4 separate regions of the Homo sapiens genome follow, and regions 1, 2 and 3 are each linked to region 4. Evidence: fine-mapped QTL for protein levels in blood plasma. A gene starts in region 4. Each other region holds a variant in brackets. All regions are shown on one strand. Distances are from middle to middle.

Region 1 (5,000 bases), 130 kb before region 4:
ACTGGCTATTATAAAATTTTAAAGTAACCCTCAAATGTATAAGCTGACAGGAAGAAGAAATAGACCCAAGGAAAAGGGGAATTTGAGTAGCACTATTTTGCTTGAAAAGAAAAGTGAGGGGGAAAAAAAAGAGCAAATGCCACAGGAAAATACTGTAATTATTATCAGTGAATCACATAAGGAAAAATTCTACCCACACTCTTCCGCCACTCACTTTTAGTAAAACCAAGTAAACCTCTGTCTTTCTAAAACCAAAATAAAACTGCTTTAAAAAAAAATTCTCAGTCTTGTAAAACAGTTCTAGACCAACCAGTGTAGATTAGCCTAAACCGAAAAATCTAAATGTGAATAAACAGGATGTTTACAGCTATGGCCCTTTAACAGAGCTCTAATCCACTGTGCCTCCATGCTTTTCTGACATGCATCTCTGAAAGATTGCAAGGGAAAATATTTTAATACCATAAACTGAGTTGAATAGTATACATTTCCAACGTAGTTTTATTTCTAGAGGAGTCTGTTACATCAAAGAGCATCGGACATTAAATATCCAAAGATGCTGTGCCATGACTCTCTCCCATAATGCAAAACTAATGATTCTGTCTGCCTTTCAAGGTAGCATCATTTGTACTCCTCTGAAATACCTACTTCCCCCAGGCAGACTGTCTCGGTCAAAGATGCACAGCTTGTATCCAAATTCATTCTCCAAAACTCCACGGAGGGTCAGTAATACAAATTCTTCTTCTTCCGCATTCCTTGCATAGGATACATAAATATCATACTCTTTTCCATCTAGCAAAAGGAACACAGATACAATGTAAATTAGGAAAGTTTCTCAATACCATTACATTTTTCTTAAATCTAACTTCTGCATATTAGACATTTTCATTATGTGACAGATTCCAGTGCGATTTTCTACTTGCAACAAGTCTCCACGCAAAACGACTATTTGAAGATGTAATTTTGAATGTTATCTGATATATCCTCAACTCTCATCTTACAGGTTGCTTTACAGTGGAAAAAGAGTGAGGTTTGTCCCATTCAACTGTAAATTAACAAAGCCAGAAGGTAAATCATAGGTACTGGCAATTAACACTGTAGAGAAAATTTCAACTTCCTGTCCAAGCCTATCACTCATTAATATCTTAAAATTACAAATTGAGTAAAACCTTGTGAAACTGCCTGAATTATTTATATCTGAAAAGAACTAAAATTAAAAATATAATTAGATTTAATGGACCAATCTTTCACGAAGTTGCTTAATTAGAAAAATCACATCTCATTAAAAACTATCGATTCCGTGTTTCTTCCATAAGCCTACTGAATTAAAATCTTTATGGGGTGGACCTATGAATTTGTATGTTTAAATGCTCTATTCTTTTCACTAAGCAAATTTGCACTAGAGCTGTGCTTTTCAGATGTTAACGTACACATGAATCACTTGGGAATATGGTTTAAATGTAGATTCTGAGTCAGTAGGGGCTAGGTCTAAGATTCTTCTTCTAATAAGCTACACGTGATATGTTGCTGCTGGTTCACAGATCTCTATCTGAGTACAAGGAGTGTGGATCAGCACTGTCCAATACAGCAGCCACGAGTCACGAGTCTATTGCTCACTCGAAATGTGGCTGGTTTGAATTGAGATGTGCTATAAGGATAAAGTAGAATACATTTTACATTTTGAACATTTTTAGTACCAAAGAAAACACTAAAATATCTCATTAGCTTTTTAATATTAATTGCATGCTAAAAAATAGTATTATAAATATATTTAGTCAATTCGTTATTTTTACTTGTTTCTTTTTACTTTTACTAATGTGGTCACTGGGAAATTTTAAGTAGGTAAGTGGCTCGCATTATATTTCTATTTGGAGGGTGTTAATTTAGACCGACTCACTAATTAATCCAAGAAAATAGAATAATAATCTTCGGAAAGATTTCTAATAGCAACGGTTGAAATTAAAGTTAATCTGCTTAAATCTTCCAGTTAATCTAGGTTTTTCAAATCAACATGTTTTCTTTTTTCTTTTTTTTACAACATATGTTCTAAAGATGACAGTAGAAGAGGTTTATGTCAAATTTCTGTTACTTACCTAAAATGGTTTCATCTGTTCCAAAATGAGCCCGGTAAAATAGGACCATCTCTAGCCAGTAAACATGGTAAACAACAATGAGAATCACCACTAGCAGGACTGTGGCTCCAAAACCACAAGCCAGTTCCACTGTGTATCTTGGAGCTGGCACTGGAATGAACAACAAAGAAACAGAATTGATTTCTGTGTGGTGACCACAGTGACCCACCATCCCGGCAAATAGCTGGATAAGCCAAGCAGCTTAGCTATGCACCTGCCTATGTATGAACAATCAGAGATAACATTGTAGAGTTTAGCACTATTTTAAAATACTAGACTGTGTTATGTTTATCTTTTTGTTTCCAGCACCTGGCATAGAAGGTGTTTTTTATTTGAATAGTCTTTGACAATATATAAATTAAAACAGAATCATAACATCAGGAAGGGCTTAGAAGGTCATCAAATTCAAGTCACAATTTGACACCTAAACCTCCTTACAAATATTTTTGAAAATTATCATTCCATCCTCGGTCCATATCTTGGGATGGAGTTCTCATTGCTACCTGAAGAAGTCCACGGTATTGGTAGAATTTTAATTGTTGATGCAGCTGATTTGAGTAAAAATCTCAATATTTTTCCACTATAGTTTCATTCTCTTGTCTAGTGTAGTATGAAAGGAATTTAATTGTCTTTCCTTTCTACTTGGAAAT[C/A]GGCCTCAAAAACATTATTTTCACTGTGCAAAAGCAAAGGACATCCACCAGATGCTGAATATGCTTGGTTCTGGAAGTTATTTCCCATGTTCACAGTTCTTCAGTACATATTCTAGAGGTGAACTTGCAATATCTGATTGTGAACAGATTTCTGCATTATCTACTTATTTTTTATATTTTAGGCACCTTTGCAGTTTCTTTGGAAGTATCAGAAATAGAGTGAGGTAATTCTCCAGTACTTAAAAACCAGATCTTAACTCATTAGCCCTATAATCAAGGTCTGTCACAACCAAATTACTAACCACCTTCCTTCCTTTCTCATTTACCATTGCTTTTTCATCAAAAACATCAGGAAGATTTAATATGATGCCCGTTTCTCATGCTGTGACTTCTGGCTGGAAGTCCTTTCTCTTTTTAGTTTCCAAGTCTATGCTCGAATATCATTATTTTATATAAGCTTTTATAGAATAAAATTTTTATTGAAACCTGGCTCTCCCGTGTAGAAATTTTTACTCTTCCCTTTGTTTATCATTTGATTACAGCATTACTTATTATATTGTAATTTGTCTACAGGTCAGCTTCTTCACTCCCTCTCATTAACTATACCTTTACAGTCTTTCAGGTAGAGATTATGTCTTTTTCTTCCATGATATCCCTAGAATGCCTAGTATCTCAATGAACATTTCCACATATAAGATTTTACACTTCTGGGATATTTAGAAGTCTATTACTAAATTATGTTTCACAATTTTATTTAGTTGCTTTATTAGCTTGTGATAATGAAGTTTAAGTGTTTGAAGGAGGAACAGTATATTTACTGGGTCTGAAGCAGGAGTGGCTTAAATTGTGTATTAGTCAATTTGATTATTATCTATTGACATCTACCATTTGCCAGAAGCTTCTGGGGATACAATGGTGAATAAGACGGAAAGGGTCTCTGCCCTTTTGTGGCTAATATTCTAATTCAGGGCAGTAAATATGTAAAGAAATAAATCAGCTGGTTAATTTTAAATAGTGATTAGTGCTATAAGAGAAATAAACCATGGTAATGTGATAGAGGTGATTGAAGGGTGGGACTGGGGCAAGGGCGGTGTACTGCATAAGGTGGTGAGGGAAGGCTTCTGTAAGCACCTAGAACATTGTAGATGTTAAATGTTTGCTGAGACACAGCTTAGAAGAATCTCATTCCAAGCTGGAATTGCTGTAGAGGCTCCCTGACTCCAAAGTGCGGGGATCTTTGAACACCATCACGATGAAGCTCAATTATTGATCATACAACAGTTGAAATAGAATCACGTTTATGAACCTTGAGAGCTTGTTTGGAGGTTCTAGCAGGGGAGCACAGCTACTCCTATACCCTTGACAAAAGACCAGTCCCCCTCTATTGCAGATGGTCGTCCTCTTCCACTGAGTGCGCAGCTTCGGGAAGGAGTCACGTGAAACAGTGAGGGAGGAAGGGGACACCCGCTTAGCCAGCCAGATAAGCTGAATCTACCCTGGTGATCAATGGGGTGACAGATGTTGCAGGCAGATCAGCTTCACATCCAGGAAATCACTTTTTAAAAAGGCATCTATTCAAAGCAGAAAATGGTAAGCAGCCTGGAGCTGAACCTGAAGTTCTCTTATTAAAGGGTGAATCATAGAGTTTTGATTTTATTATCCTAAACTGGGGATATTAATCCTGCCACAGGTATAGCCTGGGACTTAGCAGTGCAAAATTATTACCAGGTACTCTTCTACTCCTTCCATGAATAATGGCACCTTAAAACAAGAAAACTCCATCATAAATTCCAGAAGCTGTGTTAGTGCAGTTGCTGAAAGTTTACTAAGATCTATTTGGATAGCTGGCATGAAAATCACTGTGTCCTTGGTATTTCTGAGTACGTTATGTTAACAGTACAACAGGGTAATTTCCACTGTTATTTTCATTATTTGCTCAGTTATTTTGGCTCTCTCTGGATGAACATTTTGTAATGGGGGTGGAGGTTGTTGCTGGCTGCACGTACCTGAAATGGATTTTTGTTAAATGCCAATAGAGAGCCTGCTTAATGACCGAGAGATCAATTACCCTCATAAATTTCCCCTGCCTCATTCATTTTACTACTGCCCATTTTATTTCTAATGGGGCATTTTAATTCTGTTTTGTGTCATACAGTCATTTGTCATATTTACAGACTGTATTTTGTAGAGCAATCTTGATAAAAAGGAGTCATTAATGCTA
Region 2 (5,000 bases), 120 kb before region 4:
GAATGTGATCTGTGAGAGAAAAGACAAAAAAGAGGTAAATGCTACGATCACTCTGGCTTTTCGATTAAAGGCACCTTTTAAACTGTGGCACAGAGAAGGGAAAGCCAAAATGAGAAAGTGGTCACACTGAGCTAAAGAGATAGAAATGAGAGTTCAAGGCTGCTGTTGAGTCAGATTGCATTTATAGAGAAGAGAACTATTTAGAGATGGAACTCTAGAAATCTGCACAGGATTATCTCGAGTCTTCGGCCAAATACAAAGCTACACATATTTGGGGGAATACTTTAAAAGGTTAGGCAAAGAATAGCTGGGAACAGATCAACTCTAGGAGCACATGAAGGGCTGTGAGACAGTTGGGTACAGGCCACTCAGAGTGAAGAGACTGTGTTTAGCTCCCCAGTATTAATTAGAGACTTCAGGTATGACATGCTTTAGAAGTAGGTCCAATCTAACCTTACAGAAAAGGCTATTTTAGACCTGCTTTAACAAAGATAAGATGCTTTTTTAAAAGCAAGCAGTTATGCAAGTAATTTAATTACCCTCTAGAACAAAATTTAACACTGTCTTACGAAATTCAGAACTCAAAATTGTAACATCCATAATATCCAGCATATAATTTTTAAAAAGCTATATAAAAAAGCAAAAAAGTCTATATTAGCTAATAAAAAGATAGCTAATCAAAACAGAACAAAAATTGACAAAAGTGGTGGAATTATCAGATAAACACCTAAAAATGAGTATTCTATGTGTATTTGTTCAATTTTTTTAAAACCATGAACATTGTGAACAGCAAATAGAAAATATCAATAGGGACCTTTCAATGAAGATATGGAAATTCAAAAGCTAAAAGATACAATTCTGAAATAAAGAAAATGCTATCGATTAGACATCACAAAGAAAATGGCCAGCATACATTGGAAACTACACAAACACAGAGCAGGGAAAAGGATGAAAAAGGAAGAAATAAAAATAACGAGATCAGTGATCTGTGGGGCACTACTAATTGGATAGCAGTGGTCTATCCTAATTTCAGCTGGAGTACTAAAAGAAGAGAAAGAGTGAGGGGGAAAGCTAGACATATTTGAAAAGAAAATGGCTGAAAATTGTTCACAGTAAAGGAAAAATATAAACACATAGAACTGAGAAGTTTAATAAACTCTAAGTAAGAAACACACACACACAAAGGACACCACAGGCCATCATAATTTGATTTTCAAAATCAATAAAGAAAAGGTGATCTTAAAATCTGCCAAAGAAAAACATAACAAATACATAAAGGGCACAAAAATAAACAAGAACAACAGCAGCAACAAAAACTGCCCCGTTTGCATTTTAAATAATATTAGCCAGGAGACAATGGAATACCTTAAAGGGCTGAAAGAAAAGAAATAGATACACTTTCAACATATCCTGTGAAAATATTGACAAAGGCACCAGAGAAACATAATGAGAAAGTAAAAATCTTTCCAATTAATTGTGCTGGAACAACTGGATATCGGTATGAAAGGAAAACTGAACTTCAATTTCTACTACACACCATTCATGAAAAAAAAGAAAAGAGATGGACTATAGGCCTAAACAAAGGTGAACCTTCCTGACTATGGGTAAGCAAAGCTTTCTTAGAACACAGAAATTAATAATCATTAAAGAAGAAGTTAATAAATTACATCTCATAAAAAATGAGAACCTCTGCTCATTAAAACACTTCACGAAAAAACAAATTGTCATGCAACAGACTGGGGAAAAGTATTTGCAAAACATGTGTCTGACAAAGGACTGGTATCCAGGACAGATGAAGAACAGCTAAGATTCAATAATAAAATACAAACTATTTATAAAATGAACAAAATGTTTGAACAGTCACATCAAAAAATACATACAGATGGCCAATAAGCACATGAGGTGTAAGTGCTCAGTATTTTGAGACATCAGGGAAATGAAGAATTAAACTACAGTAAGATACCACCATACACTCACCTATAATTGCTAAAACAAAGAAGGCTGACAACACCAAATCCTTAAGATGTAAATATGTTGATGGTGGAATATGGAATGATACAGCCACTTGGGGAAAAAAAAAGGTCTAACAGTTTCTGATAAAACTAAGTCAGTAATTCCACTCATAGGTATTCATCTCAGAGAAGTAAAAGCGGTAGTCCATTAAGAAACTTGGATAAGAAAGTTCACAGAAGCTTTATTCAAAAGACCCCAAAACTGATAACAACCCAAATGTTCACCACCCAGAGAATGAATAAACAAATCATTCTGCATTCTTAAACAAAACAAAAACAAAACAAAACCACTCCATGGCAAACAAAAGGAGAAAATGCCTGATACACACAACAGCATGGGTGAATATCAAGAACATTTGCTGAGTGAAGGTACAGTTATACAGTAGCGCATTCTGTATGGGTCCACATAC[A/G]CAGAGTTCTAGAATATATAAAAAAAAAACTATTCTAAAAAAGGAAATAAAAACAGTTGTATTGTTTGGGGAGGTGGGGAAGGTGGGGGTAGAAAGGATTGACTGATAAGGGGAAGAATGTTACTTTCTGGTGATGGTAATATTCTATATCTTAATAGGATATTAGGTAATGCATATATATATGCATTTCTCAAAAATTATCAAATGGTACACTTGAATTATGCAATTTGTTACTTTATGCAAATTTTACCTAGAAAAGAAACCTACAAATAAATATTAAAACACTGATAATGATAAGGAGCTTAAATGTTTACTGATGTCTGCATCTACTTTGAAATGTATCAGAAAATAAGATGGATTGATATACTGGCAGAAGAATGAATAGACATGTGATAAAGCAAAGATAACCAATGTTAATGGTAGGATCTAGGTAGGCTGTATTACTGCTCACTGTGTAATTCCTTAAAATCTTCCATATATTTGAAAACTTTCTTAGTAAAGTTTTGAAATATAAAAATTAAAATGAAATAGGACATTTTCAGATTAAAACAAAGCTGAGAGAATTTGTCACCAGCAGATGTACCAGAAACATTAAATAGTTCTTCAGATTAAAATGTTACCAAGAATGGATAGTGTCAGAAATAAAAAATAAGCAAATAAATTTAAAAAAAGATCAGTTCTTAACTTAATAGAAGACAGTTATTTAAAGCCAAACTTTCACAATACATGTTGGTACACTGTAATTCATGCAAAACCAAAATGTATTATAGCACAACACAAAGGATGGGAGGGAAGAAATGGAAATACGCCATAGTAAGTTTCTCATAAAATATGTAAAGTGATTAATTCAAGATCAACTGATAAGTTTAGGAAAAATATTATAAACTCTAGAGGAAACAAAACAAAACAAGCCCCAAACAAAAAGGAAGAGCCAAAAGCTCAAAAAAGTGATAAAATAAAATACAATGAAAATACCAATTAGTCTAGAGGAGATAAAAATAAAGACAGGTGGACAACAAATAGCAAGATGGTAAACTTAAAGGCAGTCATATTAATAATTAAAGAAAAATGGATTAAACATTCAAGTTAAAAGCCAGAAATGATCAGATTGGATCCAATACCCAATAATATGCTGTAAATAAGATACATACATTAAGTATAAAGTATAAGTATAAAAGCATAAAGATGCTGATAGGTAAAATAAAATAATGGAAAAAACATATACTAATTATAAGAAAGCTGGCAGTGAGCTGAGATCGCACCACTGCACTCCAGCCTGGGCGACAGAGCAAGACTCCGTCCCTCTACCAAAAAAAAATTAATTAATTAAAAAAGTAAAAAAAAAGAAAGCTGGAATGGCTACATTCATATTAGACACAGAGTATTAACAGAGAAAAAACGGACATTTCACAATTTAAGAGTCAATTCATGAAAAAGACTTGTCAATCCTAAATAAGCATGTATTAAATATCACAGTTCCAAAATACATGAGACAAATACTGGCAGAACTGAAGAGAGAATTGGAAAAATCCATATTATATGTAAAGATTTCAACACCATTCTCTCTTTTAATAACTGAATAACAAAGTATATTGGAAAAATCAGAAGGATATTGAAGACATGAACAACACTGACACCAATTTTCTTAGTTGACATTTACTGGACACCACTCGAAACTACAAAATATATGTCTTTTTCAAATGCATATCAAACATTTACCAAGATAGGCAGTCTGCAAATACTTTTTTTTTAAGTACCAATAAGCTTAAAAAGAATAAAATCATGCAAAGTATGTTCTTTGGACACATCAGAATTAAATAAAAGATTAGAAATTAGAATCAAGTGTGCAGCACTGTGGCAAAGCTCTCATTCCCCATTCCCTCGGTTTTCACAGATACCCTGGAAATTGAACCTGAAGGATAAGAAAAGGAAGGCTTGTACTAGTTCATATACACAGCCAGCACTGAGTCCGGAACTTGAACCCAGGTCTATCTAGAACAAAAACCTATGTTTCTCCACTCCGTAATGTAGTTCTCTCAGGTAGTTCTAAGTTGGAGATACCTGCTCCCAGACTTTTTTTCTAATTTTTTACATTAGCTAAACTTAAATGACAATATGAAATGTTACAAATAACTATCAAGAGTGAACATAAAGCCAACTCTAAAATTCAAATGAATTTTCATATATAATGTAGTAAAACGATCTGGAAAATTCCAAGCATGTTTAAATTAAAAAACACACACTGAAATAACCCTTAGGTCAAAAAGAAATGAAAACAGAAATTAGAAAGTATTTTGAACTTAATAATAACAAAAACTCGACATTTCAACATTTGTTGGATTTAGTTAAACTAATCCTATGAGGAAAACACATAGCTCAGAATACTTATATTGGAAAAGAAGAATTACTTAAAAATCAGTGATACAGCTTACATTTTAGGATGACTGACAAAAAGAAAATGAAGTGCAAAGTATGCAAAAAGAGGAAAATAAGTATATGAATAAAGTAAATAAATATATAAACAACAGAGAAAAATCAATAAAAATATGTTCATTGAAAAAATTAGCAAAATTGAGAA
Region 3 (5,000 bases), 67 kb before region 4:
TAGAGAAGGTCACAGACATTAATTAAGTAGTTAAATAAATAATTACCCAATTAACAACAATTGCTATTGGAGTGATTATCATGAAAAAGACGTACAGCGTATAAAGTGGATATATTAACAGGGATCTTACTTAGCCTGAGAGGTCGCTGATTAGGGCAGGAGATGGGATGTTCCCTGAGAAATGGACTTTTGAGCTGAGTGAAATAGAATGAAGATGTGAGGGACAAAGTTGAGAGGAGAGTGTGTGAAGGAAGAACTTAGGTGAGAAAGGGAATAGTACATGTGAAGTTCCTGAAGAATCTCAGAAAACTTCACTGCCAGGGGCAAGGAAAACAGTGGAATATGAAGAAGCTGAAGCAACAGGTAGGAATTTGAACATATAAGAGCATATAGGCCGCTGTAAGGAACTTAAATTTAATTCTAAGAATAATGGGACATATTCCAGGGTTTTCCACAGAGGAGACACCTGATTTAATTTACAATTTGAAATAGGTAACACTGGTTACTGTGTGAAGAATGGACTGTAGAGAGTAAAAGTGAAGGAGAAACAGCTAATTATGAGGCTACTGCAGAAAAATTTAAGAATGTGCCAGGCAGGGTGGCTCAGCCTATAATCCCAGCACTTTGGGAGGCCGAGGCGGGTGGATCACCTGAGGTCAGGAGTTTGAGACCAGCCTGACCAACATGGTGAAACCTTATCTCTACTAAAAATACAAAATTAGCCTGGGTGGTGGCGCACGCGTGTAATCCCAGCCATGTGTGAGGCTGAGGCAGGAGACTTACTTGATCCCGGGAGGTGGAGGTTGCAGTGAGCCGAGATCGTGCCACTGAACTCCAGCCTGGGCAAAAACAGTGAAACTCCATCTCAAATGAAAAAAAAAAAAAAGAAAAGAAAAGTTCAAGAATGAGATGATGTGGCTTGGACTAGGATAATACTTAAGATGGAGAGGAGCAGATAAGAGCCACATGGAAAATGAGCAAAGATGGATTGATCAAAAATGTAAAGAAATAGAAAGGAAACTTGTTTCAGAGGCTCTTAAATCTCAAACTACAGAATGCTAGCTTGTTAGAGTCAAGAACTAAGCAAATTAACAGATGTGGAAACAGATTCTGAGAGGTTAAGTAGCTTGCCCAAATCACCCAGTAAATTAGCAACAGAACTGAACTGCAGCCTCAACATCTTTTATCCTCCTTATGTTATTCCTCATTTTTATTTTTTTTAGAACCTAACTTTGACCTCCACTTTGCTTTTCATTTTTAAAACACAGTATTGGTGCCATCTGTGAGTCACGGTGAATAGCAGGGACCCTGAAACAGTTAGACATATGAGACACAAACGAGCATGAAGAAAGGAACAGGGACTATTTGTTCTTCACCATATCCTAATGCCTATCAAATACCTGGCTCATGGAAATACCTCAAACAATGGCTGTTGAATGAATAAAGTTTCTTTTCCCATATTCTTTGGCAAATATATTGAAAAATACAATAGAAAAATAATACAAGTTTCAACTGATTTAGAGTCGTCAAAACCAGGGAAGGTGGCAGAGAATCATAGGACCATAAACTGGTTGTCAAGCAACTGATTTTGAAAAATATGCTACTATCTGCTTTTGAATTCTTAAACAATTGACACAAAACTCAACATCTGGATTTTGTGAAAACTCTGCTGGGCAAGGGTTTGCTCACATTTGGAAATACGGATTCTTGTCGGCAAGCACCCAGCTTCGAATGTAAAAGGTCTCAGTCCTAATCTCATAATACAGAGCACCAACTGGTGCTTACCTACCTGCCAAGTGTGTGGTTTCTAGGCTCATTTGACTGAGCTTCTGCTTCCTGATTTGCTTTTACTGGTTACAGAAAACTTTAGATTCATTCTCTCACTGGATCTCCAAAACAGCTCTGTGGGGTATGCAGGGCTGATACTATCAGCTTCATTTTATAGATAAGGACACTGAGAGTCATACGGAAACCAGGATTTGACTTGAGTCCAGGTTTTTCTTCTCTGCCTTATACACTGTGAATTACCCAGGGCATGTTCTGATCCAGAACACTTTCTGAGCTCCCATAGCACTGAGATTTATATTTGTTACACTAACAAAAAAGGAAACACTCGAATGCCACTTTACTGAATCAGAGATTAAAGGGCTGAGTCCTCTGAAGACCTCTGAATTCACAATGACCTCTTCTGCTGTTTCTTTTTTAAAAACCACTTTACTGAGGTATGATTGACATACAGAAAGCTGTATATATTTGATGTGCCTAAAGTGAGGAGTTTGGAGATATATACACGGGCAAGAAACCATCATCACAATCTATGCCATAAACATACACATAACCTCTAAAAGTTTCCTCCTGCCCTATTTATGTATTCATTTATGTATTAATTATTTTAGTGATAAGAACACTTTATGTAACATTTAATTTCCTAGCGAGTTCTTAAGTATACAATACAGAATTGTTAACCATAGGCACTAAGCTGTAGAGTAGATTTCTAGGACTTACCTTGCGTAACTGAAACTTTGCACCCTTTGATTAACACCTCTCCATTTCTCCCCCTTCTCAGCCTCTGGCAACCACCATTCTACTCCCAGCTTCTATGAGTTTGACTATTTTAGATTCCTCATGTAAATAGCATCATGTAGTGT[C/T]TGTCCTTCTGTGCCTGGCTTATTTAACTTAGCATAATGTCCTCCAGGTCTATGCATATGGCAGGATTTCCTCCTTTCTTAGGGCTGACTGACACTCAATTGTATGATATAATGCATTCTCTTTATCCATTCTGGAAAAACACTATGGAAGTTTTGCCAAATAATTAAAAATGAGAGTAGCATTTCATCCAGCAGTCCCACTTCTTGGTAGATATTCATTGGAGTTGAAATCAGTTGAGCATAAGAGTTGAACACGAGATACACAAGAGCTGAAATCAGTTGAACATGAGATACTCACAGGAGATGTTCTCAGTTGAATATGAGAGTGCAAATACCTCAAATAGGTATATACTTCAAAATACTTCAAAAAGACATTTACAATGGCACAGTTACGTTGGAACGTAGTTGGCAGTTCTTCAAAATGTTAAGCATAGAGTTACCTTGATCCAGTAATTCAACTTACAGCTATATACCCAAGAAAAATGAAAACATATGTCCACACAAAAACTTGTACACATATGTTCATAGTAGCATTATTCATGATAGTCAAAATTTGGAAATCACACACAGGTGCATCAGGGATGAAGAATATTTCTCAATTATGATTCAATGATGAATATTATTCATCACTAAAAAATGATGTAGTGATACATGCTATATCATAGCTGTACCTTGAAAACATTGCATTAAGTGAAAACTAAATCAATCACAATATGCCACATATAATATCATCCCACTTGTATGAAATATCCGGAATAGGCAAATCTATAGAGACAGGAAGTAGACTACTGGTTGCCTAGGGCTTGGGTGGGGGAGAATGGGTTGTGGATTGGCTGCTAATCCTCAGGGCTTCGTTTTGGGGTGATGAAATGTTCTAAAATTAGATTGTTGTGATGGCAGCACGACTAATGTGTCTGGTTTTATTGCTTGCAATAAAAGGAATCTTTAGAAAAAATATAAAATAAAAGATGTCCTCAGTAATAAAAAGGTAGGAATCCCTTGGGTCTGCCAGGAAAAAGAATAATGGGCTTGGGAACAGAGGACAAAACCTTGAGTCCTGGTTCTACTTCCTATATGCAAAACTACGTCTAAACCACCTAATCTCTCCGGGCCTCTATTTCCTTATTTGTGAAGTGACAATAATAATATATTTTACAATGCTATTCTAAGATCAAATAATATAACCATTTTAATACTGTAAATACTGTATGATATCATTCATCCCTGTAATGGTTAGTGAATATAATGATAATGTGAACTGTATCTAGCACACAGTGTAAGCCCAATACAACATATGTTTATTGCATAGAGAAATGAAGAAAGGCTGATGGTTGAAGGAAGAAGTATTAATTTAACACATGCATAACCATGCCTACAGATACGGAAATGTTGATAACTAGCTTACTATGTTCTGTAGTACTGAGCTTTTAAAAACAAAACCAAAAACAAACAAAACAGAAAGCTGCCTGTAACAAAGAGATATGTTTAAATGAGTAGATAAAGTTGGTAAGAATCAGGGTGTATAGATAGGTTTAGGGCTAAGTATCTGATATGGTTTGGCTGTGTCCCCACCCAAATATCATCTTGAATTGTAGCTCCCATACTCCCCACATACCATGGGAGGGACCTAGTGTGAGGTAATTGAATCACAGGTGCGGGTTTTTCCCATGCTGTTGTCATGATAGTCTCATGAGATCTGATGGTTTTATAAAGGGCAGTTCCCCTGCACACGCTCTCTGGCCTGCTGCCATGTAGGACATGCCTTTGCTCCTCCTTTTCTACCTTCCTCCATGATTTTGAGGCCTCCCCAACCATGTGGAGCTGTGAGTTCATTAAACCTCTCTTGCTTTATAAATGACCCAGTCTTGGGTATGTCTTTATTAGCAACTTGGGAACAGACTAATACAGTATCCAATATTAGTAGACTGATGGAGGAAAGTGGGGAGTTGCTAATTTCAAATTCCAAGTATTTGGGTAGCTAATGCTTATTTTCTTGACACAACATGCTAACAAATACACAAACACAAGCCATGGTTATAATGCAGGAAAATCTATGGTAATATCTATTTTCCATTACAAAGTTTCTAATTTAGTATTCTACTGAGGTCATTTCATGAATATTGAAGTTACCTCTGTGCTAGAGAAGTTATTAACATACCAATTTACAGACAGAAACAAAGAGCCAAGGCTTAAACTATCATACCTGTCACAATTGCCTCTTGCTTGCCATCCCGAGGAATACAACAGCTCAGATCTATATACTTTCTTACTTCTAAAAATTAAGTTACCCTTTACTTCCAATTATAAATTTAATTAGATTGAAATACAGTCAGACAATAAGTAATTTCATTT
Region 4 (5,268 bases):
AAGATATGGGTATAATTGACCAACCTTTCTTTGAAGAATCAGAACCAAAGGAATTAGCTTTTAATCTCCCTTCCATCCTCATGATCTGACCTTATTTTGAACATTTTCCTTTTCCCCCACAAGGCCCCTGTCTCTCAGGCACACATTCAGTCATATCCCAGCCAGCTCACCACAATGCATGTACATGGAACAAGCTGATAGAAGCAGGTGATCCCATCCTTTACTAATGCTTGGTGCGGGAGGTACTTAAGTGGGCACCACTGGGCTCTTATCTTCCATCAAGATGTATCACACTCTGTTCTCAAGCACTTACCAATACTGCATACAAATGCTATGGCCTGTGAAGGAGGCAGCCAACTACAAATGCTGGACACTCAATTTAAGGACGCATGGCAAAGCCAGTAGATAGTAGTAAATTATTGCATGAAGTTCATCAGAATAAAATCAATTGTCATGAGAAGGGTTAAGGGTGTGGGAGGGAATCCATTTAACTTTAAAATACCAATAATACAGGAAGACTAGTGTGGGCATGTGAATGTCTGTGTGTTCGTGTTTAAATAAGGCAAGTTTGTGTCCAGAAAGGTTTGCATTTAGCAGCATCTCTGTACAATCCAAAAGAAATATATGAGAATTTTGTTTGTTTTCTGATACTAGATGAAAAATGTAAGGTTGCTCGACTGACCTAAGAGAGCAAGGATAGAAGGCTTAGAATAATCTGTAACACAGCTGCAACTTCCAACTTTGTCTTCTTGTCTTTCTGCCTCTCACCCATTTCAAGACCCTCTTTGTCAATAAAGGATGTCTCAGATCAGGGCAGTTCACAGGCCTGAGGTTTGACCTAAAAACTAGTAGGAAATTCATATCACCGAGAAACATCAATTTTACATTTCGAGCTAAGCATCCATGATCCACATCACATATGGACAACATTCAGAAAATTCTTATTATAAAAGAGTTGCTCAAATTCAAAAGAAGAAAGACACCACATTTACAGATTTTTTTAAAATGCCTCTGTAAGATGGTATGAAATCACCTTTCTGAAAACCCACTGTCTGCAAGGTTACTATGTAACAATATTTACAATAGTTGCCATTGGTTTTGAACCAACCAGATGCCAGGCCAGGCACTGTGCTAAACATGCTACTTGAATGATCCCATTTCATCCTTCCAACTACCCAAAGGGCTCATTGTGACCATTATAAATCTCCATTTTTTGGCTGGAAAAAAAAAAAAGGAAGAAAGAAAGAAAAGAAAAACCCAGTATCGGAAAGGTGAGATAACTTGCCCAAGTTCACACTGCTAATACATGGAAGAGCTGGAGTCAAAACTCAAGTCCTCTTTCTCATCCAGTAGCTAAACCAGGGATCTGTACAGCAGAGCAGCAGAATGCTTCGCGTGGCGCCCTGGTTCACAATTTCACAACCAGAAGGTGGAGGGAAGACAGGCTGTGGGCTAGCTCTTAAAGGAAACAGCCGAAGTTTGCTTTTATGTTTGTGATTTTCTCTTTAACTCAGCTTCCTTGCTCCCTCTCAGTATTTAGAAGAGGGAAGGGGCTCTATGGTTCCATGAAGTCAGCTCTTCCCAAGTGAGGGGCACCCTGTGCCCCACAGGGCCACTAGCTCCGCTTCCTCCGGGGCTGGGAAGAAACAGTACCATAGGAGGTCACTGGCGCCCGGGCCTCGCTCCTCTCTCCCCGCGCTCCTCCAGAAGCTGGTCCGACACCCTCTGAAGGGGCATCTTTCTGAGAAAGCAGGTCAGGGGAAGAGGGAGTGAGGCTGCAAGCAGCATTTTCCCAGGCTGTCACAGCTCTGCGCTGAGAGCGACGTGATACCGAGTGGGCGTGCTGGGACACACCGCTTCCTTCTGTCCTCGGCGCTTCCAGCAGCGGTCTGGAGAAACCAAGGAGGAGATGGGGGCGGGGGGTGGTAGCGGGGAGGGGGCGGTGAGGAGGAAAACAAGGGTAGACCCCTCAAAGGGCTGAGGATGGGGGCGGCAACGAGCAGACGTCCCACAACCGCGTTACTTAAATCCCTGCAAAGCAAAGATGGGTCTCTGAACGTTTGGGTTCGAATCCGGGCTCCAGTCCTAACTAGCAGTATGACCTATCCCAGCCGCTGCCTCGTTCTGTGCCTCAGTTTCCTCTTCTGTAAAGTAGGAGGGTTTAACGATAGGATCTCTAAGAATCCGTCTACCCTGAGATTCTGCGGCTTGGTGACTTCTGAGCCCTCACGGCGGCGCGAGACTCACCTTTCTTGGGAAGCTGAGAGGGCGCAGCAAAAGCAGCCGGGATGGGTGCAGTGTCGCCGGGCACTGCTTCCTTCCGCGCCTCTGGCCAAAGCGGACCCCGGAGACCTGGATCCCGGCAGTCTTCCCCAGTGAGCCTCTTACTTTCCGCCGCACTTTCTTTTCCCCCTTTGGGGCTCCTCCCCCGGAGCGGCGCGATTGGCCACGGCCTCACGGCTCAGGCTCCACCCGCCGCCTTGGCTCGCGATCCACCGGCGCTCTGGGCTTCCAGGAGCTGCGGCCGCGGGGCGGCGTCCTGGACGGTCCCGCCCGCCGCCAGGAGGCGCGGCGCCGGGCCCGCCTGCGGACGGATGCAAGGCTGCGCTCGGCCCCTTCGGCTCCCTGCCACCGCCTGTGCGGGCTTGAGCGCGCGGGGAAAGGAGAGGGTTAGTCCTGCAGCGCAGCTCGGCACGCTGCCAGGCGCTGTGGGAAGCTACGCCCCTCACTACACACCGAGGCGCACACATGCGCTCATTGCAAGATCGTGCTCTCGCAGTTGAGATCGGTGCCACCCTGCCCTTTCTTCCTGTCTCGACGTATTTAGCAATCATGCTGCAAGGCCTTGAATCAATTCAGACTGCACGATTTTCGCAACCACCCTGTGCCGGCACAGAGCGCGGCAGGATGTAGATGCGATCTCCGCAGTCCTGAGCTCTTGCTGTCTTGAACTGACATTCATATGAGCAAGCAACAGGACATGACAGCAAGACTAAATCTGTATTGTCCACTGGTAATATACCCATTGCCTAGCACAGTGCCTGGCACAAAGTAGGCACTCAATACATGTATGGGGAACGAATAAAAGAACTAATAGGTTACATAGAAGGAAATAATCTCAAAACAAATATTTGCCTTCATTCATTTCCATTTCCCCAAGTTTTTGCAAGAGCCTTCCTTCAGCTGCCCTCTGCCACTGTAGATGGTAGTCTGTAATATATCCCGGGAAGCGTTATAAAGGCTTTCATTAAGTCATCTCTCTTGTTCAGGCACCTTCTGCTGTGTTCCTACTGCTAGTGCCTCATGATTTTTCCTGACTGGCAAGGCCCTTCATGACCTGTCCCCATTTCTGAAACCCCCTAACCAAAGCCACCTACCAGACTGACGAGTCTTCGCACATCTTCTTGCTCATCACATCTTCTTTTCTCCTCCTCCTACCTAACTGAATCCTACTAATTTATTTTCAAGAATCAAGATTCAGAGAAAGCATTTAAGGAAAAGGAGAAAAAAGATGTGAAATAAGAAAAGGGCCCAGGTGAGTGGGAAGGAAATGAAACCAGCAGGTGCCCGTGCTGCTAAAGGTGCACAGCAGTACGAAACTCAGAGGCTGCCCCTGCCCTGGCGGAGCTTCAGTTCCTAAGGTGAAATATCAGTGTAATTGGAGCCATAGAAATGTTCATGATACTTTACTTCTTGACATCACTTATGAAAATTAATTGCTCAAAATTTTTATTTATCTCAGGATACCTGGGACCCAGCACCTGCTCACAACATTGTCACTGAACCAAAGAGAAAATAATCCAAAAGAATTTAAAATGTTACCTGTATGAAGCAACAATAAAACATTTTCTGATTTATTATTCATTCCTTAAATATATTCTGGGCACAGACTTTTATATATATATAGTACACTGAAGCATTTACACAGTGCTTACAAAATAAAAAGGTGCAATCATAAGGACTTTGTGTATATTAATTCAGGTAACCCTCAATACAACCTGGAGGGTGCTATTATTATCTCCAGTTCATAAAGGAGATAAAGGGAATTTAAATAACTTGACCAAGGCTACAGGCCTACAAGTGGAGAATACAAAATGAGACTAGAGACACTCGACGTTCATGCTCTCAGCCGCTACTCAGTCTCATGTACTACCTAGAAGCCAAACAGATGCTAGTAATTCAGAATTGAACCAGATGTATATTCCCGGACATTGAAGGGCTACTCATAGCTTAAGGAAGATAACATTAAGATGAATAATCATATAGACAAATATTCATAGTATATTGTAGTTTGAACACAATATAAATGGTTGGAAATGAAAATGATTAGTTAACCAACGCTGTCTACGCACAGAATAAAATATTTGCATCATAACTATCATATTATGGAAATATGTCTACAAAGAAAAAGGCTTACAAAATAAGGTTGAGTAAAAGTTGTGGAGAGATGAACACCAATTGAAAGGAATGTGAAAAAATGTTGATATGTTAGGATTACAGAAATAGAAACATCTCTTTTTCCTTTTACATTTAAGTGAAATAAACCAAGCACAGAAAGACAAATTTTGCAAATTCTCACTCACACGTGGGAGCTAAAAATTAAACAAAGGAACTGAGATATGAGAGTAGAATGATGGTTACCAGAGGCTGGGAAGAGTAGCAGAGGCAAGGGAGTTGTGGGGAAGGGAGGATGGTTAACGGTTGCAAAAATATAATTAGCTGGAATGTATAAGACCCAGCACTTGATAGCACAACAGAGTGACTACAGTCAACAATAATTAATTATGCATTTTAAAATAAGTAAGAGTGAAATTGGAATGTTCCTCAAAGAAGTGACAAATGGTCAAGGTGATGACACCCTGTTGTCATTACCCTGATGTGATTATTACACATTGTATGCATGTATCAAAACATCACATGTCACCCATACATATATACACCTATTATGTACCCGTAATAATTAAAAATGAAAAAATGTTATGCTAACAATTGAGAAAAATATTTTAAAGCTATACCCATTAAATATCCATCACATACTAAACATTTGATGAATAATAGTTGCCTAAATGAATAAATGAAGCTACAAATTCATTGATGTCAGTGACTAATACTGCTGGATGTATAGAAGATGCACAATAAAATATTTTGCAATTGATTGATGTATTTGGAAAGGTATTATTATTCTCTTCTTCTCCCAGCTTTTACCCTCCACCTTTTTTTTAGGTTATCTTTAATTATCTTGCTGTAGCTGTAAGACGCATCAGGAGT

Alleles and levels. Alleles are on the strand shown, and positions count from the first base shown. The strength of an association depends on the size of the effect and on how common the allele is.
With allele C in place of A in region 1, the plasma level of the protein whose gene starts at base 2,382 in region 4 is higher (moderate association).
With allele A in place of G in region 2, the plasma level of the protein whose gene starts at base 2,382 in region 4 is lower (weak association).
With allele C in place of T in region 3, the plasma level of the protein whose gene starts at base 2,382 in region 4 is higher (weak association).

What was found. PIP is the chance, under the fine-mapping model, that this variant and not a neighbour inherited with it causes the effect. Protein levels are from antibody-based Olink assays in UK Biobank. Linkage for the fine-mapping came from a reference panel and not from the study's own genotypes, which makes the PIPs less certain.
Region 1: its variant is fine-mapped to the plasma level of the IL1RAP protein (UK Biobank, PIP above 0.99).
Region 2: its variant is fine-mapped to the plasma level of the IL1RAP protein (UK Biobank, PIP above 0.99).
Region 3: its variant is fine-mapped to the plasma level of the IL1RAP protein (UK Biobank, PIP 0.93).

The regions. Positions count from the first base shown.
Region 1 is chr3:190,641,488-190,646,487 of GRCh38, reverse strand. It overlaps IL1RAP (interleukin 1 receptor accessory protein), which reads right to left. Exons shown (of 12, transcript NM_002182.4): 10 at 2,091-2,240; 11 at 646-789. It also overlaps the pseudogene RN7SKP296. Among named protein-coding and RNA genes, the nearest start is that of LINC02013, 55 kb to the left of the region's middle. RefSeq lists an enhancer at 53-625. The variant C/A (reference allele first, on the strand shown) is at 2,780.
Region 2 is chr3:190,635,285-190,640,284 of GRCh38, reverse strand. All of the region lies in intron 9 of IL1RAP (interleukin 1 receptor accessory protein), which reads right to left. Among named protein-coding and RNA genes, the nearest start is that of LINC02013, 62 kb to the left of the region's middle. The variant A/G (reference allele first, on the strand shown) is at 2,423.
Region 3 is chr3:190,578,204-190,583,203 of GRCh38, reverse strand. All of the region lies in intron 3 of IL1RAP (interleukin 1 receptor accessory protein), which reads right to left. Among named protein-coding and RNA genes, the nearest start is that of IL1RAP, 67 kb to the right of the region's middle. The variant C/T (reference allele first, on the strand shown) is at 2,649.
Region 4 is chr3:190,511,199-190,516,466 of GRCh38, reverse strand. It overlaps IL1RAP (interleukin 1 receptor accessory protein), which reads right to left and starts at 2,382. Exons shown (of 12, transcript NM_002182.4): 1 at 2,248-2,382. RefSeq lists enhancers at 1,192-1,691, 1,692-2,193, 2,946-3,035 and a silencer at 2,446-2,795.